Homo sapiens: one gene and its partners. The protein of the gene in region 2 purifies or fractionates together with the protein of the main gene of each other region. This does not show direct contact. Each region holds a gene or a part of one and is shown on either strand. Other genes may lie near its edges. The genes, in order: DHFR2, CBLN4, NRXN3 and NKIRAS1.

What was found.
Region 1: the proteins of CBLN4 (region 2) and DHFR2 purify together in Homo sapiens (affinity purification with mass spectrometry; 2 studies listed by BioGRID and IntAct, with this or other methods). This does not show direct contact.
Region 3: the proteins of CBLN4 (region 2) and NRXN3 purify together in Homo sapiens (affinity purification with mass spectrometry; 2 studies listed by BioGRID and IntAct, with this or other methods). This does not show direct contact.
Region 4: the proteins of CBLN4 (region 2) and NKIRAS1 purify together in Homo sapiens (affinity purification with mass spectrometry; 2 studies listed by BioGRID and IntAct, with this or other methods). This does not show direct contact.

The regions. Positions count from the first base shown.
Region 1 is NC_000003.12:94,059,850-94,067,579, forward strand, and holds the start of DHFR2 (dihydrofolate reductase 2, mitochondrial), read right to left. Parts: upstream 3,068-7,730; 5' UTR 2,897-3,067; intron 1,758-2,896; 5' UTR 1,663-1,757; coding exon 1,099-1,662; 3' UTR 1-1,098. Other genes in the region: NSUN3 (tRNA (cytosine(34)-C(5))-methyltransferase, mitochondrial), read left to right, coding at 3,278-3,289, 4,588-4,697. UniProt on the Homo sapiens protein: Key enzyme in folate metabolism. Contributes to the de novo mitochondrial thymidylate biosynthesis pathway. Required to prevent uracil accumulation in mtDNA. Binds its own mRNA and that of DHFR.
Region 2 is NC_000020.11:56,002,285-56,009,569, forward strand, and holds the start of CBLN4 (cerebellin-4 precursor), read right to left. Parts: upstream 3,236-7,285; 5' UTR 1,888-3,235; coding exon 1,597-1,887; intron 1-1,596. UniProt on the Homo sapiens protein: Acts as a synaptic organizer in specific subsets of neurons in the brain. Essential for the formation and maintenance of inhibitory GABAergic synapses.
Region 3 is NC_000014.9:78,964,356-78,971,612, reverse strand, and holds part of NRXN3 (neurexin 3), read right to left. Parts: intron 5,589-7,257; coding exon 5,207-5,588; intron 4,406-5,206; coding exon 4,215-4,405; intron 3,441-4,214; coding exon 3,267-3,440; intron 1-3,266. UniProt on the Homo sapiens protein: Neuronal cell surface protein that may be involved in cell recognition and cell adhesion. May mediate intracellular signaling. Functions as part of a trans-synaptic complex by binding to cerebellins and postsynaptic GRID1.
Region 4 is NC_000003.12:23,899,932-23,907,188, forward strand, and holds part of NKIRAS1 (NF-kappa-B inhibitor-interacting Ras-like protein 1), read right to left. Parts: intron 1,547-7,257; exon of another isoform or gene 1,430-1,546; intron 1,143-1,429; exon of another isoform or gene 1,119-1,142; coding exon 877-1,118; intron 1-876. UniProt on the Homo sapiens protein: Atypical Ras-like protein that acts as a potent regulator of NF-kappa-B activity by preventing the degradation of NF-kappa-B inhibitor beta (NFKBIB) by most signals, explaining why NFKBIB is more resistant to degradation.

The DNA of each region.
Region 1 (7,730 bases), on a different chromosome or scaffold from region 2:
GTCAGGAGTTCGAGACTAGCCTGACCAACATGGAATGTCCCCACCAAAAATACAAAATTAGCCTGGCGTGGTGGCACGCGCCTGTAGTCCCAGCCACCCAGGAGCCTGAGGCAGGAGAATTGCTTGAACCTGGGAAGGCTGAAGTTGCCGTGAGCCAAGGTTGTTCCATTGCACTCCGCCTGGGCAACAAGAGTGAAATTCTGTCTTAAAAAGAAAAAAAAAAAAAAGTATGAAGAGTTTACATACTTAAACATGGAATTGCTTTAAGTGTTTGGCATTCACCGTTCCCGTACATTACAGCAGCTTCTTTCAGCAAACACCTGGAACTTGCTATTGAGTAGGTGGAGTACGTTCTGCCCACACACAGGACAGGGAGCTGACAACCAAGGAGTGGGGGTTAAATACTCTAGCTTTCTCCCCTCCGTTTCCCTGTATCTCAGCAGTATGGAGCTCGTTACCATTGAGAACCTCCTCACTGATTTTGAACTGGTTTTTACCTTCTCAGTTCCATTTCTCCATACTTCGATTGATGACTTCTGGTATGACCTAGCAAATAAACTGCTTTCACTTAAATTTCAGTCTTGGAATCTGCTTTGGGTTCCCCAATCTAAGACAGAAATATATTCATTTTCCCATCACTGGACTTCCAGGTTGTTTTCAGTTTTTCACTGTTACAAAAAAGGCTGCAACATTTGTCTACAAACCTCTGGATATACATGTACGAAGCTTTTGGTATTTCCTACTAGTGAAACTGCTCAGCTGAAGGGTATGTGCATCTTCATCTTTAATAAATACTACCAACATTAGAAAAGCCTGACAATGTCAAGGAGTGGCAAGAGTGCCACATGTGATGGGTGTGGAATGGCAGCTCACTGTAGCAGGTGCTGGGGACTCAGTCGGGGTCTTGGAGAGACAGTTATAGCAAGAATGTTTCATAAATGGTATCTGATATAGCCAAGATTAGTGAGGAATAAAAACACGTTGCTTAGAAATAATTATCCATAGATCTGAAGTCAACAAAAGTCCCTTTTCTAATGTAAAAATGCATACTTTTCTCAGAGGGAGGGGGAACAACTTAAACCAGAAAACACCTTCATATTAATCATCCTTCTCACATACTTCAAATTTGTACTTGATGTGTTTCCCCTCCTGGACATCAGAGAGAACACCTGGGTATTCAGGCAGAAGTTTATATTTCTCCAAGTCAATTTCTGAAAAAAACGTGTCACTTTCAAAGTCCTGCATGATCCTTGTCACAAATAGTTTAAGATGGCCTAGGTGATTCATGGCTTCCTTATAAACAGAACTGCCACCAACTATCCAAATCATGTCTACTTTATTTGCTAATTCTGGTCGTTCAGTAAGTTTTAAGGCATCATCCAAACTTCTGGCAAGAAAATGAGCTCCTTGTGGAGGTTCCTTGAGTTCTCTGCTGAGAACTAAATTAATTCTATCCTTTAAAGGTCGATTCTTCTCAGGAATGGAGAACCAGGTCTTCCTACCCATAATCACCAGATTCTGTTTACCCTCTACTGAAGAAGTTGTGGTCATTCTCTGGAAATACCTGAATTCATTCCTGAGCGGCGGCCTGGGCAGGTCCCCGTTCTTGCCGATGCCCATGTTTTGGGACACAGCGACGATGCAGTTTAGCAAAAGAAACATGACAGCAGCGGTTAACACCTCCGAACTTGCTGGCTACGCCAGGAAGCCAGGCCAAGAATGCCGCGAAATTCCCTTCTTCAAATTTTTTTACGTGCCTACATTGCAAATACAATACCACTGTATTAATTAATTGCAACATTCTGGAATGAACATAGAAAAATAAATTATATAAAATATATTTATAAAGTATAAATTTATAAAATATTTATAAAATATAAATTTATAAAATTATAAAAAATACAGAGGCTGAAAGGTTAGACCGACTTTTCCACAAACATTAAACAGACGGCATCCAAGAGATGGCATCATTTCATTCCTGATTATCATAGTCTTTTGTACCAAATCTAAATTCTAATAAGATGCATTTTTTAGGTGACTTGGAAACTTGTTTAAATAAATAAATATATTAAGCTTCAAATCAGATTAGAAGGAAAGACATGTTTTTACATGAATATAAGACTTGTACCTATAGCATGTACGTATATTGATATGAGCATCAAGGAACAACTCAAAATGATGATTATTAACTATCAGGGACCATATCAAACCGGTTTTTTCTAATTGCTGATTGCTGCTACAAATGATAGTTACTGAAGCATGACACCAAAAGAGCAAATAAACTTCTATTCGTGTCAAAATAGGTGTAATAAACATCTTCCTTGGAGAACCATTAAACATTGCTCCCTTGTAAAGGTGAATTGGGGAGGCTAGAGTGGAGGGTCCTTTTGGTCTTCACGCATTTGGTATCAACGCGACAAAAATCACAATGATCACAATAGTGAAAATAATAGCAGCTAACATTTGGGCATTTACTGTTTCCTAATCACTGTTGTAACCGCTTTACATGCCTACTTCAGTTTAACACTCTCCATTAAAAGGAGAGATTATCCCCATGGGCCAGGTCTGGGGAAAAGCATGACTTAATTTCTTTTTCATTATATTCCACCCTTTTATCCTTGGGTACTGAATGTCTAGGTTAACAGGGGTCACTAGATTTGGTAGATTAAGTCAGTAACTAGCTTCGCTTTGAGAATATTTTAAATCAGTCATCATACAACATAACCCCAAAACTCATTCCTTTATTGAGCCCCATGCATATACACACTGTTCAGCACAATATGCGACTTTTTATTTATTTTTGAGACAAAGCCTCGCTCTGTCGCCCACGCTGCAGTGCAGTGGCGCGATCACGGGTCACTGCAACCTCAAACTTCTGCCCAAGCGATCCTCCCACCTCAGCATCCGCAGAAGCAGGGGCCGCACAGGCGCGCAGATGTGTGACTTTCTAAGGTCCGGCCGCCCAAAGCTACGCCGACCAATCCAAGTAGCGAAAGTCGCTTTGGCCCTGGCCCGTTACCTCCGCGTCCTGGGAAGTATCAGCCTTTACCAGCTACCGGAAGTAACTGCGCACGAAATCTCCCGCGGGAGCTAAGCCTCTTCGACAAGAATTCTATAGCGCGAGCAAATCAGTATCTCGCGAGAAATTGAAGAGGAAACGTGAGAATGAAAGTGGATGCCCGCGAATCCCGGAAGTCAGACTGTTTTTTTCAGTTCCCTGGAGGCTTTTTGATACTGATTCGCGTACACCTGTTGTTTGAAAGCTCTCAGCGGGACAATGCTGACCCAGGTGAGACCTGGGGCCCGGCTGGGTACCTCTATCTGAATGAGACGCTTCTGGACGCGGCCGAGGTGGCGAGGGAGGGTGCTGGGATGGGGGAACATCACCTTTGTTCGTCCCCTCGCGAGATCAGCGTTTCTTTGGCTTTACTGTCAAGCCCTGAAATAATGCTGAGTGCTGTAATGCTGAGTCCCTTCCGTCCAGCTCGCAGACTTCTAGTACCCACTCCCTCCAGCTCTTGGAGGGCTGAGATTTGTTTTCTGTGTCACAGCGGTATCCCGGGAGCTTAGAACAGTGTCTGTTACATAGTAGGCATTGAATACACGTTTCTTGGATGAATAAATGAAACAATTGCAAGGAAGTTCACGATGAAATTGGAGTGACTTTTCTCCCTAAATTAACTTTTCACTTTAAAATAACGTTGCAAAGATAGTACAGAGTTCTCAAATACCTTTCACCAATTTTTCTTGATGTCAGCATCCCCGGTGACTTTTTAGTTTTGTTTAGATACAAGTTCTTGCTCTGTCACCCAATCTGGAATGCAGCTGCTCCATCATAGCTCACTGTAACCTTGAACTCCTGGGTTCAAGCGATCCTCCAGCCTCAGCCTCCCTAGTAGCTAGGACTACAGGAGCAGGCCACTACGCCTGGCTAATTTTTTTTTTTTTTTTACTTTTTGTAGAGACACGTCCTTGATATGTTTTCCAGTCTGGTCTTGAACTGGGAAATGATCCTCTCGCCTCGTCCCTGCAAAGCATGAGCCAGCTGGAGTACAGTGGCGCGATCTCGGCTCACTGCAACCTCCACCTCCTGAGTTCAAGCGATTCTCCCACCTCAGCCCCCTGAGTAGGTGGGGTTACAGGCGCCCACCACTACTCTCGGCTAATTTTTGTATTTTTAGTAGAGACGGGTTTCCCGTGTTGGCCAACCTGGTCTTGAACTCCAGACCTCATGTGATCCTCCCGCCTCTGCCTCCCACAGTGCTGGGATTACAGGTGTGAGCCACCTGCCTAGCCCCTACAGTGACTTTTTAAAATTAATTTTGTTCCTTTTGACAGTTTCTTCAGCCCCAGTAGATTCTGTTTTAACCTTTGCTTCACATTTGGAAAATAATTATTTGGAAAAACCTTGCTTTTTCATAATTAGATAATGTACAGTTTTGGTACATGTAAGGTATTGCTTCCATTTCAAGAACTAGTAATTATCCAAAAAAAGTGTTCTTGTCTTAAAAAAAGACCTTGCTAATGTTGACGTTCAGTAAATTTGTAATATCACTGTGTGTCAGCAACTTTTTCTTATCGTCATAGCTGAAAGCAAAATCAGAGGGGAAGCTTGCAAAACAGATTTGCAAAGTTGTGTTGGATCATTTTGAAAAACAGTATTCCAAAGAACTCGGAGATGCCTGGAATACAGTAAGGTTAGTATAATTCATCTCGATGCTTTATGATGGAACAAAGTACAATATGTAGTCCTCCTTTTTGTGGGAGGGATGCTGTGAGGTTAAAAGGCAAAGGAATCTAAATCTGGTTGCCTTTTCCTACTGAAGCTATAGAAAGGAACAACTAAGAAGAAATAGAATGAATCATAGCATGTTGGAAAGGGGAAATAAAACTTTGTCGGGATGGTAAGCACAAATTGTTACGCCTTTGCTTTGAGCAATTACTTTGATCCTTGAAATAGGAATGCCCACTAGTTTGACAAAATTAATTATACTGTAAAAGAAAAAAACATAAAATTTGGAATATTTGACTGATTTCTGAAATTTAGAAGATAATACAACAAATCTTTAAAGCCAGCACTGCTTTATCTCAGCCAAAGGTACACTTTATTTGGTAATCATATTTCTTTCCTATGTCGATGGCTGGGTATATTTTGAACACGTGCATATACACACAAAATTATTTAAATATAAAAATAAGGAATGTTTAATGCATGGAAGTGGGAGAAATGTGATTTGTCTGTTTGGTAAGATGATGTTAATGTATGGATTACTGTATGGGTTCTTGACATTGAGTGCCTGATACACTATATAACCCTCTCTGGAATACAGAGCAAGACAGTCTGCATGTCCAGTTTACATGCCGTCTAGTTAGTGTTAATGGGAGAAGTGAGGAGATGGGTGTGGTTACAACTATATAAACTAATTTGTAAATACTGTGATCCAAGTATCTAACAAAGCCTGAGGGTGCCAGCAAAGGCCTGAAGGGAAGCTGGGTCTTGGTGACTTAGAGGAGTTACTTTGACAAAAAGAACTAGGCCTCCTAGGTTGAGGGAAGAAGGTGCACTGTTCATGAAGTTAGGGCAAAAGCCCACTACATGTTGCATGAGGAAAAAAAGTTGCATGGCTACAGATATTATCTGGAACTTGGTCCAGACTAATTTTTCAGATGGTTGGCTTGTCCATTTTTTTCTTGGATCAACTCTTAAGCATTTCTCCTTTACAAAGGGCAGTTCTGAGCATTTTCTAAAACAAATTAAGTTTTGGCTAATAAAGATCACAAAGTCTGAGGTGATTCTGAGATAATTTTAGGACAATTAAGCTGTTATAGAAATTGGTAAATGCTGTAATATGCAAACCGTTTATACTCGTGGGTTTTATTTCAAAAGTAGATTTTCAAATGGGTATTTTCTGTCACAGAGATGAAGAACTGAATAATAAAGTATGTAATAAATTTATGAGGTTTTCAGTATACAAAGGTACTCAAATAGAGTATCCAAATAACCAAACACTTATTGCATGTTTACTATATGCCAGACAATACTGACTTACATGATCCTCAGAACAAACCCGTTAAGAGTTTAAGTAATTTGCCCAAGTTCACTCAGCTAATAAGTGGCAGAGCTGAGGCTTGTGCCTGGGTTGTCTGACTCAATAACTCCCACAGCTCATCCTTGTTCTGTACTGTCTCATATCTGGGATGTGATTTAAAAAAAAAAAAGATTTCAAGAGGCTTTTTTTTTTTCTGTAGACTTTGTAGCAGTCTGGCTACTCATATCCTATAATGACTTATTTTTCTACTTAGTGTACTCAGAAAGTCATATACTATTATTTGACCCTGAGCAAAATGAGCAATGAACCTCAAATCCATTTAATTAGCTGTGCCTTCTGCTTCATTTACCCTATTGTGGGGTTTTTGTGGTAATTTAAGTTTTGCATAAACACACACTAAATTTGCCATAGGCAAAATAAAGGTTTCTCAGCTTAGGAAGTAGTCTGAGCATGGAAGATGGTATGGGGAAATAAGAACAGAATGAAATATTTTGTGTTTTAACTGCTTGTTTGCAAGACATAATGTACTTGTAGAGTCTACTTCCAGGGAAAGTCAAGTGCTCTTTTTTTGGCCTATTTAGAAAGTAATTTATTCAATATTTTTAGTTTCCTGTAGTAGTGAGGAAGATTTAGTATTTAGTTTTGCTCTTTTTTAGTAACCTTTCTTGTCTAGTCATCCTCTGAGCAGCCCTTTAAAATTGGAGTTTACCCTGGTTCAATTCTTGCTCTATTTGTTGCCTCCATGTTCTCCTCAGGTAAGCCCATTCATGGCATGACTTTTATCAGTATGCTGTCATCTCAAGCTGTGAGGTTCTTCCTAAGATTTAGTCCCATACTTCTGTTTTTTAGCAACTTCAGTTACTTGGCAAACTCAAAAGTGTATTATTATTTTTCCCTTTCAAACTTATGTTGCCTTTGCTACCTGCATATTTTATCTCAATTAAGTGTATCACCATCAGTCTGGTTTCCTCCTTTCTTCTCTATACCTTCACTACCTTTGTAGTAAAAAATGAACCTTATATAAAAATAGGTCTGGCAACTGCCCTCAGCTCCTGGGAGGCGATCTCTAAGCCCTTGGAATGTGCTTCCTGATAAGTGTGTCTTTGTTTACCTGGGTGTTGAGGTCACACCTGATAATCTAACGATGTGATTTATGTTGAGGCCTGGGGACCACAGGTGTCAACTCAACATCCAGAAGGGCTTGTGACTAAAAGCTGTATGGACAGTCAATCATATATACGTGACCAAGCCCCAATAAAAAGTGGATACCAAGGCTTTGGTGAGTGTCCCTGGTTGGCAATACTCTTGTGCATACTGTCATACATTACTGCCAGCAAAAGTTGACCTCGTTGATGATTCCGTTGGAGAGGACAGCTGGAAGCTTCATGCTTTGAATTGTTGTGAATTCTGCACTATGAGTCTCTTCCTGTGATTGTTTTTAATCTGTATGCTTTCATTATAATAAACTGTGACTATAACTGTGATTATAACAGCTTTCAGTGAGTTCGGTTGTGTCCCAGTGAATAATCAAACCTGAGAGTCATCCTTGGAATCCCTGAACTTGTAATTGGTGTCAGAAGTGAGAGTTGTCTTTGAGACTCAACTACCCTGCCCCCTTTTAATTTGGATCTTTTTAAAAAAATTCTCTACTGCTGCCATTCACTTAGACCTTCCCAATCT
Region 2 (7,285 bases):
CTTTACAAAGAAATTTTTCAAGCACAATTAAAATAATTTGAGGTGCTTAGTGGTGACTTCCTGATTCAGATACAAGTAGCATAATTCATTAGCAATAATGAAAATAGCTGATTAGTGTTGGCTACATATAAAACTGGATGTTGACTCTACACTGTAATTGGAGCATCCAGGTACATCGAGATTTATAACCAAATGTGTGTTCTTGTCTCTAAGATGCAAGGCTCACTGAAAAGAAGAACAAACCCTTTTCCTCTTCTAATTGATGGAAAGGTCATTGAAAGGAACACCCTGTATAGAGGATAGTGCAATGCCCACAGTATTCCAACATTTAATTAAAGCATTGAAATACAAACTAGGGGTGGTGCTAGACTTTATTTCCATCAAGATGGAAAATACTGCACCAAAACCCCAAATGGAGCTACTTAATTCTTTAAAAATTATGTCTATCAAATACTAAGCCCCTAGAGAGGCATTCTCTGTCTTTGGCCAGCTGGAGAGTGCATTAGTTAGGAAAAATTAAGCAAGGAATACAGATGTCACCTCGTGCTTTCCCTGGCACATCCTGCAACACCACTTAACCTGTGCCCCCTGCACATTGCAGCTTTGCATACAACTGTGAACTGTGAATTTGGAATTTAAAAAGACTCTGGATACTGTTGGGGCTGAAATTAAAAACTCTGAGGACAGTTTTCTCCCTTAAGACCCCTTGCTAAAGGTAAGCTGATATCCTGGGGTTTCTCATCAAGCCAAACACGGAGCACCAGGTCGCTAAACAGCAGCTACAGCTTCCGTCAGCTCTTCCCCTACTCTCATCAACCTCAAAGTCTGTCTTTCCCCAGCTATTTGCAATTCTCTGAAAGGACATGAGCCCGGGAAGGGAGAACTGGCTCCCAAGCGCTTTCCTACAGGAGCTCAGCGCAGTTGCCAAATTCCTTTTCCTCCCCTCCTCCGCAACTTTTCTCTAAGTACCGGAGAAGGGCTTGCTGCCTACTCCGAGGCAGCGGCAGTGCCAGCGGTGCCTGGCACACGAACAGTGGAACCTGCAGGCGAGATCTGACCCCCGGCTCTGCCCCCGCCCTCCGCGGCCACCTGCCCGATCTCTGAAGAGTGTGGAAGCCCGGGGCTCTCTTGGGAGAGAAGCTTCTCTACCTGGGAGAAACAAATCAAACATTTATCCTGTTCCGCAAAGGTACCCAGGGAGCAGCCTCAGCGGCACCCGCAGAGGAGTCTGAGCAAGGGCACCAAGATCTGGCCAAGAGATAACGACGTCCAGGGACCAGGTGCCCTTCGGCTCCCGCCGACCTGTTGCTCGAAACTTGCCCTGAGCTCTCGCTGCCGGGCTCTGGGCTCCCAAGCCTCTCCCCCGCCGCCGCAGCAGCCTCTTTTAGGGGCCCGGAAGAAATGGGAGCCGGGGCTGGTGAGAGGGGTAGGAAGAGGGACGGTAGAAGTTTCAGACCCAGGCATATTTGGGAAGGCGAGTGCTTTACATGATTCCCCATTTCCCAATCGGACCAGCTTAGCCTGGGCAGGCAGCCTCGTGCTGAGGTGCCTGGAGACCGCCCACCCCCTAGGTGCTCGCTTCCCCCCGGGTCTGACCTGATCGAAGTAAATGATGCGCGTCTTGTTGCTCATCTCGGATGGCTCGTGGTTGGTGCTCCGCACCGCCGAGAAGGCGACCTTGGAGTTGGCCGCCCGGACCGATATCCCCAGCGGGGAGGAAGAGGAGCCCTTGGAGTCCGTGGCCGGGTTCGAGTCGCACACCACCAGACACTTGCCCTCCAGCACGATGGGCTCCGTGTCGTTCTGTGCCCAGACGGGCAGCCCCGGCAGCGTGAGGACCAGCAGCACGGCCGGCACCGCGGACAGCGCCCGGCGCCCGGAGCCCATGGTGAGCCGTGTGGGCAGCCGCAGCCGGCTGGCGCTGGTGCTCGCCCGCGTCGCCTCCTACCCCGGGATCCCGGTGCTCGGGAAGATGCTAGCGGCTAGGTCGACAGCGCTGCAGGAGCGACGGCGGCGGCGGCGCGCACACTTCCACCAATTCTGTGGCTTGAAGTCAAAGTCTCCCCTCGAGCTCTCTCGCTGGCTCTGTTACCTTTGTCCTTTAAGGAGCTCATGCAGCACCCTTTACCCTACTCTCCTCCGCCCAAGAATCAGCCCTGCCTGGGGCCCCTGCACCCACTCTGGTTCCTAGACATCTGAAAGTCATCAAACCCTCACATTCACACCTCAAGGCAAAAAATAATAATAATAATAAATTCTCACCCCAAACTCAAGCACCACCAGCTAAACCACGGAGCAGGAACAAAAAGAGGGGACTCAAAGAGAAGCCACAAGGGTGGCGGGTGCCCAGCGGCGCGGGTGCCAGTCCTGTCTGGCTTGCGGCAGGGACGAGTTACAGAGGCAGAAGGTCCTTCCCAGGCTGAGAAGAACGCGAGGCTGTGTTCATGGCCAGGACGCCAGCGACTCCCACTTTCGCCTGGTCAAAAAAATCCCCCAAACCTGGTGTCACCCAGAGGTAGGGAGGGAGGCAGCGGCTAGCCAGGTCCCTCGCACCGAAAGCGCGGATTCGCAGGATCAGGTCCAGGGCGCCGGGCGCAGCGTTCAGGGCGGCTGGTCCGGCGGGGTCCTCTCCTGCCTGGCCGCCCGCCCCCAGTCCCTGCGCACAACTTTCTCGTCCCTCGTGCAGCCCGGAGAGCGCGAAGCGGGCACACGCGCTCTATTTATAGGAGCGCAGCGTCCGGCTGGGTTGGCTTATCGCGCAACCCGCGGGCTCCGAGAAAAGGGGGAGAAGGCGTCTGGTGACCCCATCTGAGCAGCTCTCTCCTGACGTTTAACGCACCCCAAAGCAAGCGGGGCGCACAGCACTGGTGATTGGCAAGGTTCGAGGCCCCTCAGCCCCTGAAAGCCCGTGGCGTAAAGGATGCGTGCCCAGAGAGGAGCCCACGGCCCTGCGCTGGCCCCAGCTCCGCGCCCACTCTCTCCTGCTCGATCTGAGTCCGCAGAGGAGGCGGCTGGTCCCCTCACCCCTCCCAGCGCGGAACTCTGCCGCCGAGTGCCCTCCAAGCGGAGCGCGGCGCTGCCAGGCCGGGTCGCGAAAAAGGATAAGCCGCCGCGGACCCGCGCTGCGCGCTGCCCCGAACCTGGGGACCGGCGGGCGTCCCGACCGCGCCTGGCCGGGAGCCCGCCCCACACAGCCCTGGGGCCTGGCGAGCTCAGGGAAGCCTTGGGGCGGACCAGAGCCCGTGGGGGCGGCTGGGAGGAGGTGCCTGATTCCTTCCTTCCGCTCCGGGAAGATGAGCCTCAGAAGCCGCAGGGGCGCGCCTTCCCCCCACACCGCGAATCCTCCCCAGGCATGGCCAAAAAAAAGAGTGGGAGAGGGAGTTAACTCAGCAAGAATAAGTCCTCCGAAACCGTGCCAACAACAATAAAAAAATAAAAATAAAAATAAAAATAAAAGACAATCCCACTCCTAGGAATACAGCATTTTTCTCCCCTTTGGATGCGCTTTCCGCCCCCGTGCCACTCCACTGCTATCTTGGCCTCTGATTTGCAAGAGTTCCCTTCCTCTTCTGCAGCTACCACGGGGAAGGGAGGTTTGTCTCTGTCTGGACCCGGCTGCGTGAACTTGGCCGAGTCACTAACCCTCTCTGAGAGGGGGGCGCGGCGTTAACTAAGGTCCTCCCCACCCCCATCCCGCCAGCTTTCCAATTCTGTGATGCTGTGGGGTCATGGCGCCCCTTCCCCAATTTCTTCTACACTTCCAGCTGCCAGAGGGCAGACACGTATGGTATCTTTAACCAAAACAGTATCCCCTCCAGGCATTCGGAGCTCCTAAAATGGCATTGGCTAGTTATGAATGGAAGGGATGTTTATTGAGGGAGGTCCTTGGGATGGACGGCTCCCATTCCTTCCTGAGTGAAGGACGCCCTCATGAGCGTGGCATTCGAGCCCTCCACAAAACAAGGTGAACCTCGTCTCCAGCCTTTTTCCCTTCCTTCAGAAGGGCCGGGCATTGAGCTATAAGCACCAGCTCCAACTGTTAAAATTGAAGACACTACGAGGAATCCCCTAACCCTCACCTCCCTATAATCTCTCAACTAAAGTGTTAATACTTGGTGCCACAGGGGCCTTCAGATTCTGCTCCAGTGGGGCCAGTATCAGGTGTTTTGACTTTATGATTTTATTTTACTTGTGGTGGGGGGTGGTCTCGCTATATTGCCCAGGCTAGATGCAAAACTACTGGGCTCAAGCGATTCTACTACCTCAGCCTCCCCAGTAGCTGAGACTACAGGCCGGTGTCAGTTCCGGCTGGCAGGTGCTAGTACCATGCTATTTGTTAAAATGTTGAAAGTTACCTATCTAAGCTACAACCAAACAAGGTGAACTAGTGCCTTCTGAAGATGGCCACCATTTACCCAGCTTTGATGCCCCACCCTAAGCCCAGCACAATCTTCACCTGATCCCTCTCTGCACTTTGTAACTCTCTTCCAGATTTTAGGGATGTCTGCCTGGTTAACAGCAGCAATTTCTTCTCATTTGATGCAGTCTTTTGAGGGTGGGTGCTGAGTTGAATTTAGTTCCTTTTATTTCCTGTAGGGGTAAGCACCCTGCCTTCCTTGTCTGGGACAGCTGTTCAATAACTAGAACTTTGGTTGTTCAATTTCAGGCTGGGAGAAGTTTGACAAAAAAAAAAAAAAAAAAAAAAAAAAAACTGTGTTGAATTGTTAAATAGAAAATAAGCTATCTTCCTCACCAATTCCAATATATTCTCTCTACCTCCTTTTCTTCTCCAGGCACTTCCTGCACGCAAGAACTGAGATTTGAAGAAACCTATTCTTTCTCTCACCAAAAATATTCATTTTTAGTCCCAAAATCTGCATAGTGACCATAGTAAAGACTCAATAATTGAGAAATGACTGAATGCTTCCTAATAGAAGGTAATTATCACTCATATTATAGTATAAACTGCTTTAAATGAGTCTCTCTCAGTAAAATTTAAATTCAAAGCCTCCTTAATAATTGGGGATAAGGGTCTCGGTTCCTTACTAAAGGATGTTCTGCTCTTCAAAGTGTTCTGAAGATAAGGAACACAGCATTTTCTGTGGACCCCCGCTAAGAGAAGTTATCTTATATTGTGAATCAGAGGGTCCTGACTCTTTTTCCCACAACAGTTGATTAAACACGGATAGCCCCTGGGTTCTAGGACCATCAATGCATTTGATACCAGAAGTCCAAGATTTGTATGGTCCAACTTGGCCAGATGACTTGGGGCTGCCAGATTTTCTCTCTGCAATCTTAATGAGACATCAAAATAGCTTCCAGTAAGCACTACATGTGGCAGAGACAAGGTTTGTAGTCTCCCAAACTGACGTGGCCATGTAGGAGTCATCTGCAAGCTGAAGCAGAAGAGGTATTGGAATAAACCAGAGGACTGGCCACACTTGTAGAAAGAAGCCAATTCTGGAGCATGAGCACTTCTAAGAAGTACAGGGAGTGAATAGTCAATCGCCAGTTCTGAACTCTTGCTTACAAGAGTTCCAGAAACATTTTCTCCTAACCTTGGGTTTCTTGGTATCCTCCTATGTCTTTGAAATAAAAACCCAATTCCCTTGAGCTAGTTTTAGTAACATACCGCTCCCTGTCATCCAGAATCCTCATTAGAACATTGTCCCAGAAACCATACCACAAAAGGCTATGGATCTCTTGCCAAAAGACTAACAAATCCAATCTCCTGCCTGTAGGAAATGCTTTTCCAACATTTTGGGAAAGGAGGCATCACCTGTTCCTCACCCCCTACTTCAGCCCCAGCATCCCCAGGAGAAAAGAAACAAGATCAAGTTTAAGTTTCTCTCCAACCACAGCATAGATCTGTTTTTCTTTTTCTTTTTCTTGTATTTTTCCAGTTGAAAATATGCTATTAGAAGACCTAGCAGTGACCCAAATATTTTCCCTTTCTGAGATTCCCATATTGTATTTGATGCCTAGGATTTTTTTTTTCTCCTAGACCTTTAGAGATGACGCAGAAATGCATTTCAGTTCTCTGCAGCTGGGCTTAACTTTAAAGTAAATTAGAATCTAAACTATCCTTGCATAGGAAAGCAATACTTCTGAGGTCAGTAAATTCAATGACTGCTTGTCCAGCCATCCTTTAGAGAAACCAAGTTTCAAGCAAGCCCAAGACAGTAAGGATCTATGAGCTATTTTCTGACTGTGAAGAAAATGTTTCTGAGAAGGCAAAGACAGACACACACAAGGTATTCAGCTCTAAGGGCCTCACTGTGGTTGAATGAAAGCAGACTCCATGCATCATGCAGCAGAGACAGCCGCAGGTCAGTCGTGCAGAAGATGGAAAATCGAGAGAGAGAGAGCAGTGAGGCTTGCATCATACCCAGACAAAGTTCCACTGAGTTGCTTAATTACCCTTTGCTCTTTATAATGATAGTTATCAGCCCAAGCTAATGATCTTTTTTGAGGGAGAGTAAGTAGCTTAAGAAGAAAAAGTCTTGGTGGGACTGTAAACTAGTTCAACTATTGTGGAAGTCAGTGTGGCAATTCCTCAGGGATCTAGAACTAGAAATACCATTTGACCCAGCCATCCCATTACTGGGTATATACCCAAAGGATTATAAATCATGCTGCTATAAAGACACATGCACATGTATGTTTATTGCAGCACTATTCACAATAGCAAAGACTTGGAACCAACCCAAATGTCCATCAATGATAGACTGGATTAAGAAAATGTGGCACATATACACCATGGAATACTATGCAGCCATAAAAAAGGATGAGTTCATGTCCTTTGTAGGGACATGGATGAAGCTGGAAACCATCATTCTCAGCAAACTCTCTCAAGGACAGAAAACCAAACACCGCATGTTCTCACTCATAGCTGGGAATTGAACAATGAGAACACATGGACACAGGAAGGGGAACATCACACACCAGGGACTGTTGTGGGGTGGGGGGAGGTTGGAGGGATAGCATTAGGAGATATACCTGTTAAATGACGAGTTAATGGGTGCAGCACACCAACATGGCACATGTATACATATGTAACAAACCTGCGCGTTGTGCACATGTACCCTAAAACTTAAAGTATATTAGAAAAAAAGAAGAAGAAGAAAAAGTCTCCATGAACAACCAATATGTGAGAACTTACATAGTCTGGAAAGTTCCAGAGTCATGTTGAGTAAATCTTCATAGCTCCTTCTGGAGACAGCCAAATGACAGACTTGTTTCATATGAGGATGGTATTGTGGGAAAAAAATAGATGGATGCTGTA
Region 3 (7,257 bases), on a different chromosome or scaffold from region 2:
TTTTGGACTCTTTTGCCTTTTATTTTACCTGCTGTCATGGGTCTGATATAATAGGGAAGGTAACACATTTACTACCTAGGGATCTTAAAGTGTCATTGTCAATGACTTTGATGGAAACATATATTAAATGTAGATAGATACAGATACTTATCTATCTGTGTGTGTGTGTGTATATATATATATATATGTTTATCTGTGTATTCTAGATTTGCTAGAATAAAACATATCTTGAAGAGATTCTGGTCTTAGTTCTTAGTTATAAAACCTCATCCCCTACTTGTTTACTGTTCTATGTAAAAGAAATGATAAATTAAGAAATTTGTTCTGTTTCCTGTGGTCCTCATACTACCTAATGCTCAAAGGCCTTCTTGGGGGTCTCATGCTCTACACAAGAGATTCAGAATAAAAATGATGCCTTTTTGCAGTGTCTCCAGTGTTTTGTGCTCTCCCTTTACCTCCCCACCATCTTACACAGAACCCTAAAATGCTCCTGGGATCTCTTGCAAGGGCTTATTCACAGTGGTACAAACTTCCAATGACAGTAATTTATGCCTTAACCCATTTTGGGCCATTTTTCCTGGCCACTTAGGCTAATTATCCAAGTCATTTGTGTACAATCAACAAGGACTTTCTTCCCTCAGCACTCACCCTCCACTTCATCCCACCCAGCGGGGTAGGCATAATGCTCAGTGGGTAACCGTTGTAATTATCTCCATGGCAATAGAGTGCAGTGCTATTAGGCTCATGGGACTCACCATAGATTCAGATGGTGGAGCCATCAAGCCACAATATCCGGCTTTGAACAATCAACCATACTCAGAGGAAGGTCGGAGCTCTCTGTAATGCATGTGATGAGTAATGCCAAACTGCACATAGAGCTGTAGATAGGGATAGGGACATTTTCCCCAACTCGTTATGTAATTTCTTTTTGCTGATGCTCTTACTGCTTCTCTTAAAACTCTCTTAAGTGAGGTCATTCTCCCTTTATATTATACATTTTAGTACCCTTTTATAAAGCTTAGACCTCCTTTTAATCCAATACTATAGCTTTATTTATTTACACCTTAATTTTTGTATTCTGTATACCTGTACTACCAATACAGTAGCCATTGACATGTGTATTGAGCACTTTAAATGCATGTAGCCCCTGGGTTGAGGTGTGCTGCAAGTATAAAATACAAACTCAAGTTTAGAGGCTTAATGTGAAAAAAAGTGCAAAATATTGATAATTTTATCTCTATTACATTCTGAAATAATATTTTGGGTATATTTAGTTAAATTGAATAAAATACAAAATTAAAATAAATTTGACCTGTTACTTTATACCTTTTTAAAATGTAGCTACTAGGAAATTTATAATTGCATGTGTTACATATATCTATTGGAAAACACTGACATAGAGTTAATGGATGATTCCTGTTAACTTTTAAATCTGAAGAACTGATGGCATAATAAAAATTCTGTAACATTTGACCAGTATCTTACGCTTTCTAATATGTGCTCTTATATTGTGATTTGACTTCATATGATTAATTATTCCAGGATAAATGGAATTACTGCCATTCTACAATCTTCTAAACACTATATACAATTTAATTCCAAATGCTACGTCTATTCCAGGATTGCCCTTTAATACACAAAAGAACTAAAAGCAAGCCAAGGAGACAAAAATCCCTGATTGAATGAAATTGTTCATTTCTAGGAGCAAAGTGGCTGCTTTAAGGGCTTAGTGATTCCCAACCTCCTGTCCCTTTATACACACACACACACACACACACACACACACACACACACACACTACATAGTACAAACACCATATTTGGCCAAGACAATTTAAGAAATATTTCTGGATAAAGGAAAAATGGAGTGGGTTATAGGAATGAACATTCCTATTACTAGTGCAAAATACAAAAATAACTCTTAGGCAAAGGGAAACAATTTCCATAACTCCAAGTCAGCCTGATAAGCTGACAGGAAGCTTTTATAAATGTGTGCTTTACGATGATGAGCTAACCCAGATGGAAGCTGTTTAAGAACAGAAGCGATACATGAAGTTGAACACAGAAGTGGAATGAACAGATTTGATGTGGTAAATTAACAACTGATACAAGGAAACACAATATATTGCGCAAACACAGGACCATAAGGCTCAACCAAAAGGCTCAAAAAGAAAAAAAGGAAATAATTACATAGATCCTTGGTCAGGCAACTTCTTTGCCTTTCAAGTTAGGTAACAGTCACGTTTTCAGCCAACCCAAGACTACTAGGGAAGGCTGAATGTGTTCACTTCTGCCATCTGCTGGTTAAAACTAGATTGTTTACACTGCAAAGAATTGTTGGATTCAGGAAGACCTGTAAAATTCATTTAGTATCTCAAGAGACAGTGGATCATCTACAGGAACAGGCTGAGCATGGTTTGTTGTGCTGCATGGGTAGACATGCAGTATTATTAGATGTTTGACATAAAATAATATTTGTAAACAATAAGCCTACCATTTATCGAGTACCTACTACATACCAGGCATTTTATGTGTATTTCTGATCTCCTTACATTCAAGGTAAGTTTTATTGCCCTGTTTTATAGGTAAGAAAGATATAGCTTACAGAAGTTACATCACCTTCCAAATGTCACATAGCTAACAAGAGCTACTACCTGGAGCTGAATCCAGGTATTTCTAATATCAAAGCCCATAATGTTCCAATATACCACACTAAAGAACTGCCTAGCAATGCCTGATAATTAGTAAGTACTTAGTAAATGTTAGTTCCCTTCCATCATCATGGCATTTGGACATCGTTTTCCTATTGCCTGCTAGATTTGCATTAAATAATGCAGTCACTATCAGCCAAAATAAGAAACATTTTATTAATTAGTGACATCTACATAAAATCTCTGGTTTTCCCCTCATCATGTATTAAAGTATAAATAAAAGTCTCCAGTGCTGTTTCAGCCATTCTGGAAGCCAAGGTACACATTGAAAGAAGCCTGATGTCAATGCCAGGGAAGTTTTTTATTTTATTTTATTTTTATTGGCAAGTATGTGATACTCAGAAAACATCTGCCAACATACATTCCTGGAGCCTGTGGCACATGTCTTGACATACTAAACCAGTGACAAGAGAACACTGATGGTGATGCAATGTCACGTGGCAAATGAGAATGAGACAGGACTGGTCAACTGAGGAAGGAGGCAGTGGCAGAGGCAGCAAAGAGGCTTGGTGCTTGCAACAAGGCTGTAGCTTAACAAGAAAAAAATAGGTTGTACCTTCACAGCCACGCTCGATCTGTCCGCTCCGATGAAGAGCATCATTGATGAGGTCTGGCAGGCGTCCATTCAAGTCCACTGATGCTAGACAGCCCTGAAAGCCATCTCGAGAGGCCACGAGCTTTGGGAGGTTGCTGTACATGCCTTGGGCCAGACCAGCCATATAGAGATCACCTGGAAAGGAAAGTAATTAGCAAAAGAGAATGAGTAAAGGATGTGGTGACCATGTCAACTAGTTTGATACACTTGAGATAATTCATCAGATAAGGAATAAGATAGCTGGGGGGGGGGGGGGGGGACAGCATAAATGAGATAAGCACCTGAGTTTCTACCCTGCAAAAAAAGGAAACCAATATTTATTATGTGTCATTCATTTTATATATACCATCTCAAAAATTTATTCATCATAGATGGAGTAAAGATTAACAATATTGTCAACAAAGCAAGCATTTATTGAGTGCTTTTTATGTGCTTGTTACCAATAATATGCTGAGGGATATACAGACATGCCATCAAAACTTCTCACGACCTATACAGAAACTAACAATTATTATCCTCATTTTGCAAAGAAAAGTAAATGTAAGCTGAACAAGGCTAAGACAGTTTACTGATGACACCAGACATTAAATGATTCAGCTGAAATTCCAAAGCCTATATTCCTTCCTCTGTATTACGGCCCTTCCCACACTTTGACACTCATCCTGTCATCTCTCAGCCCCCACAGCATGACATTCCCGAGGTTATCAGAGAAAATGAACCATTTCTTGATGAGTAGTCTAAGTAAAAACGGAAAAAATTGCATTACAGGATAATTCAACATTGTTAAAACAGGATATGGATGATGTATCAAAAATGCATGGCACTCTGAACCTGTGGTTTGCCTCTGGAAATAGTCTATCTATTGTAAGAAAAGCTCTATTAAAAACTAAATTTCTTTACAAGGTTTACCTTTCAAATCCAGATTTTTGGCACCATTGATAACCTGAGTGACCACTTTGGTGTCCACTTTCAGGCTATGAGTGTTACTATTGTCCCGAGTGATGACGACATTGTGCCACTGGTTGTCATTCAGGGGGCGGTCACTGTTGCCTTTGATCACATTGGGACCGTTTCCGAGGTCAAAAACGTAGTGTATATACCTAGGAAGAAAAAAAAAAAAAAACAATAATTGGAAAATCCCCGAAGTGGTTTAATGGCTATATGTGTGTAACTGACATAGTGGGCTTCAAATCCCCCATGCTAAACTGGCATAATGCAGGAATAATTTAAATCTTGATATGAGGTTACAAGAATAGTCAGATTTTATTCTATCATGCTTCACTATAATTCCATACTCATCGAGTCCACTTCATTAACACTACCTACTAATACTCTCCAGAGTCAAAGTAGCACAGGTTGTACACTACAAAACATAAGGGGGTGACTTTTAAATTCATCATCAACCATTAATCTGTTTTGGTTTTTGTTTTGGTTTTTTGTTTTGACTATTTTCTAATACATGGTAGTAAAATGTCTTGAGGAAAGGGCAGCTTCTAAAAACTTGCATATATGGGCTAATGGTAGGATTTAAAATATTTATGTTTCATCTTTTGGTATAAATTGGGTGGTTGTAGTTAGTAATACTCAAGAATTAGATGCAATACAAATCATAGCCCTCTTTTGCAAAAATAAGCTTTTCTTCAATAGTTTTAAAGGGCTACATTTCATAGGAAAAAGTCTGTTAGTGTTGAGTTAGTGGAAGACCTTTAAATTAAATCATGAGCCTCTCTCCTTTCCAGACCTAATAATTTTATGGATCCATTTAATCAAGGAAGATGCGAGAATGTGTCAGGAATGGAGGGTAGGGAGTAGAATAGACAAGTTATTTTTATGTCCATATTTTACGTAGAGCTTCAGTAGATTAAAGGTGTCCAACATAAGTCGTGATCCCTTCTACTTACCCCTTGACAAGCTCGACTGCAATGAAGTCATTGCCATCACCACTATTGAAGAGAATGAAGCCATCTGGTGAGGTGGTCTTGAACTGGAAGAAGAGGTGCATGGAGGTGTAAGCCTGAAGAGTGGCAAGGCTCAGGTAGCTGCTCTTGGTCTTAAAGGTGACAGGGTCAGCGATGATGTTCCTCAGTCCAAAACGAGCCTTCAGCTCACAATAATCAATGTCACCATTTTTGCACAAGTCAATGTAGAGAAGGCCATTAAACATGAGGCTCTGCAGATGGCCAATAAAGCTGGAGGGGACAACGGAGATGTAGCGTTTCTCAGTCATGATTCCCGTTTCAATGTTGTGGAACTCCAAACGGGTATGGTCTCCCACCATTGTACCTGTGAAAATTGTAAATGAGGTACAAACAGAAAAGTTACCATCATTTATCACAGCACCCTCAAGTATATTTTTTGGGTGTAACCTGTTTCCACACAGAATATTCAGCTTTCTTGGGTGAGTTCAAGAAAACCAAATATTCAATATGGTAGATACCTTACTTGGCCTCAATCAGGCATTGCCCAAATTACATGCTGTCACGCAGCTGCTCAGCACGGCTCATCATATAAGGGGAAATATGAGGTCATGAGTAACCCAGGCTAAAGGATAAAACTATTGATATTCTCCATTCAGGAGAATCACTGGACACTAATACACACTATAAGAAGAAAGGCCTTTGTTGCTCTGACCCTTGTAAAGACACAACACACAAGTCTTGGGCATCACTACCAAGTATTTTTTCTCGTAATAACTCTCCACTTAGTACTCGTGGGAAGGATTCTATTATAGACTTATCAGTTGAGTTTACCTGCCCAGCAACTGTTACTTTATCTTATAATAACACGTAATTTTTCTTTAGGAAGCTACCCACCCCTCTTGACCTTTCAACCACCTGGACTGGATAAAGTTGACCCTAATCAAGCTACTCAGCCTAGACCACTCAATGTACTTTACCCCCCTAACTGTCACAGACTTTGGACTACAGACTTAAAAAGCGGTCATTACACTTTAGGGTGTATCAGAATCACCTGGGGGGCTTAGGCCCTCAGAGTTTAGAATTCAAAAGTCTGGGGTGAGGCCTGAGAATCTGCATTTCTAACAAGTTTCACAGTGATGCTCTTGTGGCTGATTTAGGGACCACCCTTAGAACTGGCAACAACCCAAGCCATCCCGGCCACACTCAGTTCCAGAGCTCTTGCTGGTACACTTAGGAAAGAGGATTCTTTGCAAGCAAGGACTGCTGGAGGGGTAAGAAGAAAGCTTTGAGTCCCTAGAGGCTATAAGAAAATCAGAGGGATCAGAGGACTAGCAACCCAGAAGACAATTACCAAATGAAGAGAATCATCTGTGCTGTCCTTTGAGACTCTGGATCAAGCCAGGCACCTCCCGGCTTTTTCAAACTGTGTGGCAATAGACTCCCTTTCATGCTTAAAGCGTTTGAGTTGGGTTTCTGACATTCACAACGGAAATATCTTCAGCTGTTACAAATGAACTATTTAGAACTTGTATTACCTATTTTACCTAGAAGTGGTGAGTGACTAGGGCAGAGGGGATAAGGAGGGCTTGAAAAAAAAATACAAAGAGACTGGAAATTTTAATAACAAAATAAAGAAAAACATCATTAATGTGGCCAGAGTAGAAATTGGCTTCCTCAACATTTATATAGAAAAATCATGTTAAAACATAACAAACCATGTTCTACTGCCAAGCATTAGAGGGGGAATTCTTTCTTCCTGTCCTCTCTTGTTACCTTCTACATTGAAAAAACTCCATTAGCAAGACTGATAGCATCTCTTTATTTCCTCTTTAACAACTTTCCTGAAGAAGTGACATAATCAGAAATATTAAGGATGATCTGCAAAGAGAAGCTGTGTATGCTTAGCTCAGCCCCTAACACCTCCTGTTTCTCTTTGCTGGAGCAAGCTGCCTTCAGAAATGTCCATTCTACTGCATGCATCCATAGAATGGGTGTTACAGGAGCAAGCCTTGCTTCCACAAAGGATGTCTGCC
Region 4 (7,257 bases), on a different chromosome or scaffold from region 2:
AGCAGGCGGATCACAAAGTCAGGAGATCGAGACCATCCTGGCTAACACGGTGAAACCCTGTTTCTACTAAAAATACAAAAAATTACTGGGCCTGGTAGCACACGCCTGTAGTCCCAGCTACTCAGGAGGCTGAGGCAGCAGAATCCCTTGAACCTGGGAGTTGGAGGTTGCAGTGAGCCAAGATCGTGCCACTGCACTCCAGCCTGGGTGAAAGAGAGAGACTCAGTCTCAAAAAAAACAAAAACAAAAACCCAAGGAAACAGCAATACCAAAGAACATAAAATGAATTATGTAGTACTTGAGATAAGAAGTCATTAAAATTCAACTTGTAGATGGTAACAAGCAAAAGGCAGAAAGTCAAATTCTGGTCCTAACTAAATTCAGTCAGACCTGTATTTCTTGGGTTAAGAAAAAAATTCTAGGCCAGGCAGAGCGGCTCACACGTGTAATCCCAGCACTTTGGGAGGCCAAGGCCGGCAAAGCACTTGAGGTTAGGAGTTCAAGACCAGCCTGGCCAACGCGGTAATACCCTGTCTCCACTAAAAATATAAAAATTAGCCGGGCATAGTGGCACACTCCTGTATTCCCAGCTACTTGGGAGGCTGAGGCAGGAGAATCGCTTGTACCCGGGAGGCGGAGGTTGCAGTGAGCCAAGATCGCATCATTGCACTTTCAACTCTTGCCTGGGAGACAGAGCGAGACTCCGTCTCAAAAAAAAAAAAAAAAGAAAAAGAAAAAGAAAAGAAAAAAATTGTAAAGGTTTTACAGATACTAAGAATATACTGTAATGATCTGAAAATAAACTACCCAAAAGTCTGTGCTATAATTTAAATGGTATTATAATTCACATTTGGCATTTTTAACATATCCACTTGCCTCTTTTTTGTCTTTGAACTTATCGATTTCTTTCTTCAGAAGCTCCACTCTTTGAAAGGATTCAAGGTTATTCACACTGTACACAAGAACGAAGCCATCAGCAAATGAAAAATAATGCTTTGGCAGCTCCACGCCTTCCTGTAGACCTCTGGTGTCATAAAGATGTAACTGTTCTTTTACTCCTCGGTCTGTTTCTACTGAAGCCATGTATACATCTTCCATTGTTTCGCAATCTTCCATTCCTGGGATTAAGAAAACAAATTACTCTTTTTGGCTAAGTCAGTGTCAACTGCTCCGTATTTTCTTGTCCTTTAGAAATTGGCTTTCTAGGTTTCTTATTTACCACATATAATAATCACATTTCTATTTTACTTTTTTTTTTTTTTTTTGAAACAGGGTCCTGTTCTGTTGCCCAGGCTGAAGTGCAGTGGCTCGATCTCAGCTCACTACAACCTCCGCCACCTGGGCTCAAGGGATCCTCCCACCTCAGCCTCCCAAGTAGTCCCTCCCAGCTGGGACTACAGGTGCCATCATGCCCAGTGAATTCTTGTACTTTTTGTAGAGACAGGGTTTCACCACGTGGCCCAGGCTGGTCTCGAACTCCTGGGCTCAAGCAATCTACCCACTTTGGCCTCTAAAGTGCTGGGATTACGGGTGTGAGGCACTGCACCTGGCGTAAACAAAATTCTTTTAAAAAATATTTCTTCTGCATAAAAATAAAAATCCCCTTCTTGTTTATGATCTTTTAAAAATGCATTTTACCACTTTGTTTCATTTGTGCAAGTTTTATCTCTTCAACTAGTCTCTAAGTTTATTAAGTGAAAGGAACCATTCTGTGTACACAGCAAATATTCAATAAGCCCTTACTGATAAAGGAATTAAAGGGAGAAGATTAACATTCTTAATTTTAATAAGTAGTGGAGAGACATGTGATAAGACAGGTAAGGTATAGTCCCAGTAACCACCTCCATATTTAAATATGAGGCCAGGCACGGTGGCTCACGCCTATAATCCCAGCACTTTGGGAGGCCTAGGTGGGCAGATCACCTGAGGTCAGGAGTTCAAGAACAGCCTGGCCAACATGGCCAAACCCCATCTCAACTAAAAATACAAAAATTCGCTGGGTGTGGTGGCGGGCACCTGTTATCCCAGCTACTCAGGAGGTTGAGGCAGGGAGAATTGCTTGAACCTGGGAGGCAGAGGTTGCAGTGAGCCGAGATCATGCCACTGCACTCCAGCTTGGATGACAGAGCAAGACTCCGTCTCAAAAAATAATAATAAAAAAATAAAAATAAATGAATGTGAGATACATCCAGAGGTAAAATCACATGGATAACATCCTATACCCCCCCCAATCATACTATGTTATAGTTTTTTTTAAACTAGTTACAGTTTTCCTAAACAACCTAAATACTGTAGAATGATTTGTTCCAGATGCCTTACATGAAATGTCCGTTAAGTATTAGATTACATAAAATCTCCACAAGTATTAGATTAAAAGGAATAATCACATGGTAATACATAGATTGGATCATTGAGAAACCAAAAATTTACTTTCATCAACATAACTCATAAGGAATGTATTCAGTGTTTAGAAAGGTAAAATTATTCATAAATCTGATTATGTATATACCTGTCTGTGTCATCCTGTCATAAATTAAGCCCTAAGGAAATTAAAGGTTATCTATTAAGACACAAACGTATTGGGCTTTGATTACAAATTAATTTAAAAGCAAAAACTACCAAGCATTTTGTCATGTGATTTTTTTATCCACCAAAAGCCAGTCCGGTTAGCCCACCTCCACCTGCCTCTCCAAAAGGGGGTCTAAAGTTTAGACCTTTTGATATTTTGGTACTCTAAAGATCAAATGAAGTCAAGAGTCTTCCACTAGTTCTCTAGATTTCCTCTCCCACTCCACGCTGCTGGGCAACTACCCATCTCGCACACCAGGGGAAGGCTTAAGGGTGCAATCTCTGGGGAGTATAAAATAGAGGCTGTCTAGACTGTGGGATAAAGGGAATGAGTTCCACCATGAAAACAGGGCAATTAAGTGACATGCCTGCGCACACACACATACTGAATGTTGAAGTCCTCCGGCTTTCCCTTTCTGCTCCCAAAACACTGGCAGCCAGCTCTTTATCCCCATCCAGGGGAATCTGGAGAATCTGGCCAACGGAAAAGGAAAAAATCCTAAATATACTGACATCTAGGTTTCCCCAATAAATGCCCCTGCCAGATCACTTTAGTGAAGCTCTAAGTCATGAACCCTATCCATATGCTTAGAGCTTCCAATTGGCTTTTTAAGTTGTATTTATTTATTTTTGAGACAGGGTCTCACTTTGTCATCTGGGCTGAAGTTCAGTGGGACAATCTCAGCTCATTGCAGCCTCAACCTCCTGGGCTCAAGCGATCCTCCCACCTCAGCCCTTCAAGTAGCTGGGACTACAGGTACATACCACCAAGCCCCACTAATTCTTGTATTTTTTTGTATAGATGGGGTTTCACCATGTTGCCCAGGCTGGTCTTGAACTCCTGAGCTCAAGCAATCTGCCTGCTTCTGCCTCCCAAAGTGCTAGGATTACAGGCATGAGCCACTGCACTGGGCCTAGGGGTCCATTTTTAATTATGAACAGATAACCAAGGTTTAGCAGACACCTGAAGAAAATAGAGACCAACAAGAAGAGACCGCTACAGAGAAACCAACTATACAAAGAAAAGAAAACAAAAACAAACAAACAAAAAACTACCTAATCTATCAAAAAAATAAGATAGTACATCCATGAAATAAGAACAGGATACTAACAAAAACTCAATAGAAGGGCTGGAAAATAAAGATAAGAATATCTACCAAAAAGTGGTACAAAAATATTGAGAGATGATAAACAGGAAAGGGGCAATAAGAAAATTCAAGGACTAGTCCAGAAGGTCCAGCATCCAAAAAGAGAGTTCCAGAAAACAAGGACAGAGAACACAGAGGAAAGAAAGCAATAACAAAATAATTCAAAACTGAAGAACATGCATTTCCATATAGAAGGGGCCCTCTAAGTGTCCAATACAGTAAATGAAAACAGACTGGCCAGGCTCGGGGGCTCACACCTGTAATACCAGCACTTTGGGAGGCCAAGGTGGGCGGATCACCTGAGGTCAGGAGTTCAAGACCAGCCTAGCCAACATGGTGAAACCCCATCTCTACTAAAAATACAAAAATTAGCTGGGCACGGTGGTGCGCACCTGTAATTGCAGCTACTTGGGAGGCTGAAGTGGGAGAATTGCCTGAACTCAGGATGCGGAGGCTGCAGTGAGCTGAGATCGTGCCACTGCACTCCAACCCGAGTAAAAAAAGAAAAAGAAAGAAAAGAAAAGATCAATTCTATGACGCATCACTGAAATTTCAGAACACTGGTGTCTTAGTCCATTTGTGCTTCTATAACAAAATACCACAGACTGGGTAATTTATAAATAGAAAATTTCTTTCTCACAGTTCTGGAGGCTGGGAAGTCCAAGATCAAGGTGCCAGTAGGTCTGGTGTGTTGTTATGGCACAGTCCCTACTGCAAGATGGAGCCTTGTTGCTGCATCCTTGGGAGGGGTCAAATGCTGTGTCCTCACATGGTGGGAGAGACAGAAGGGCAAGAGAGCACTCCCTTCAACCTCAAGCCCTTTTATAAGGATGCTAATCTTTCATGAGGGATTAGTCCTCATGAAGGTGAAGGGTGGAGCCCTCATGATTTAATCACCTCTTATAGGCCACAGTGCTTAATACTGTTACATTGGAGATTAAGTTTCAACATGAATTTTGGAGGAGACACTATCCTTCAAACCACAGCAACTAAGAACAAAGAAGAGAGCCTAAAAAAGTTTCCACAGACAAAGCATCAAGAATCATAATGGTTCCCAGATTCTCAAAAGTAGCACTAGAAGCAAGAAGACAATAGAAGCTGATAAAGTTAAAGAGACACACCTTCTATGAATCAGCAATTTCTAGATATGTATACCAGAATTTATCACATAATAGCCAGGATACATGTACAATAATGTTCCAGAGTAGCATTATTTCCAATAGCTCCAAACTGGAAAATAACCCAAATGTTCATGAAGACCTAACAGACAGAGGTAGTTTCATGCAATAGAATGTTACATCAATGAAAAGTAAACAACCACAGCTACGGCAAAATGGATGAATCTTTTATTTTTTTTTCTAAATAGAGATGGGGTCTCCTGATGTTGCCCAGGCTGATCTCAAACTCTGGGGCTCAAGTGATCTTCCCACCTCGGCCTCCCAAAGTGCTGGGATTCCAGTGGTGAGCCACCATGCCTGGCCTGATGTGTCTTACAAATATAATGTTGAGTAAAAGAAGCCAGACATGGATTAATTTAATTCATAGAAAATCCATAGGGCAAAAAATAAACTAGACCATTTAGTGACACACATATGTGGCAATTAAAAATAAAAAGAATGATTAACCAAAAGTCAAGGGAAGGAATGAGTTGCAACTGGACAGAGGAACACAGGGAGCCACTGGCCTGTCCTCAATGTTGTACTTTTTGATCCATGTGGAGATTATGTGAAGGTTTGTCTTATAATTATTAAACCATATATGCAATGCTTTCAAAATTCCGAAAGTATATTATTTTTGACCTAGAGTTCCATACCCATCAAAATTACAATTCAAATGTTAGTGTAAAATAAAGACAGTTTCAAACATGCAAAGCCTCAGAAAATGTATCACGTATATTTTCTCAGAAAACTATTTGAGGAGACCCTCCATAAAAACTAATATGTAATCATAGAAACAGGAAGAAACAGAACCTAACACAGATATGAAGTAAAGGAAATCACAAGCACAATTAGTAAATATCTCAATTCGGAAGCCCCAGGGTCACGACTACGTCCCAGGTAGAGGGCATGTTGAAGGCCATCATCACTGGATGTTCTGTTCTACTGTACAACCTTTTCAACCCCAGAAAAGTACTGGAAAATGTGCTCCAAAAAAAAAAAAAAAAGGTATAAGCCAAAAGAAGAAAAGAAGACAAGAGATCTAGGAAACAGGAAATCAAAACCAGGGAGAGGCCGGGTGCAGTGGCTCATGCCTATAATCCCAACATTTTGGGAGGCTGAGGCAGGCAGATTGCTTGAGGCCAGGAGTTCAAGACCAGCTGGAGCAACATGGTGAAACCCTGTCTCTACTAAAAACACAAAAATTAGCCAGGCATGATGGCGCATGACCGTAATCCCAGCTACTTGGGAGGCTGAGGCAGGAGAATCACTTGAACCTAGGAGGTGGAGGTTGCAGTGAGCCGAGATCGTGCCACTGCACTCCACCCTGGGTGACAGAGCGAGACTCCGTCTCAAAAAAAAAAAAAAAAAAAACCAAAGGGAGAAACAAAGGGGAAGTTCCATGATGATGGTGGCACAGTAGATAAGAGGACACAGAGCTCCTGAAAGGACACAGCCAAGAAAAAAAATAGATTATCTGATGGAGCTGACCTCATGCAGAACTGAGAAACATCTGGACTATGTGGAAAGAACTAGCAAAAGGTATAAACAAAACTAAAGAAATGACAAATACATGTTGGCTTCCATGAAAACAAAACAAAAAAAAGAATCACAGTATACTATACTGCTCTGCTGAGAATACCACTGACCCTTAAACAACACAGATTTGAACTTCACATGTCTTACATGTAGATTTTCTTTCTCCTCTGCCACCTGACACAGCAAGACCAATCCCTCCTCCTTCTCCTCAGTCTACTCCACATAAAAACAATGAGGATGAAGACCTTTACGATGAACCACTTCCAGTTAATAAATAGTAAATATATTTTTTCTTCCTTATGATTTTTTTTTTTTTTTTGAGATGGAGAATCACTTGAACCCAGGAGGTGGAGGCTGCAGTGAGGTGAGATGGCATCACTATACTCCAGTCTGGGAGACACAGATTTTATTTTATAGGCATTATCATCAAAGAGAGTGTCTTATATCCTTTGCAGTGGCTATTTTTCACTTACATTCTTCTTTTCAAATTTAAATAATGGTAACCTCTTATACATTTTAAAATAACCTTTATTTTTTAAAGCAGGTTTTTGTTTTGTTTTGTTTTGTTTTGATACAGTCTCGCTCTGTTGCCCAGGCTGGAGTGCAGTGGCGTGATCTTGGCTCACGATAAACTCTGCCTCCCGGGTTCAAGAGATTCTCATGACTCAGCCTCCTAGATAGCTGAGATTACAGGCACGTGCCACCATGCCCAGCTAATTTTTATATTTTTAGTAGAGATGGGGTTTCGCCATGTTGGCCATGCTGGTCTTGAACTCCTGACTTCAAGTGATCCGCCTGCCTCGGCCTCCCAAAGTGCTGGGATTACAGGCGTGAGCCACCACACC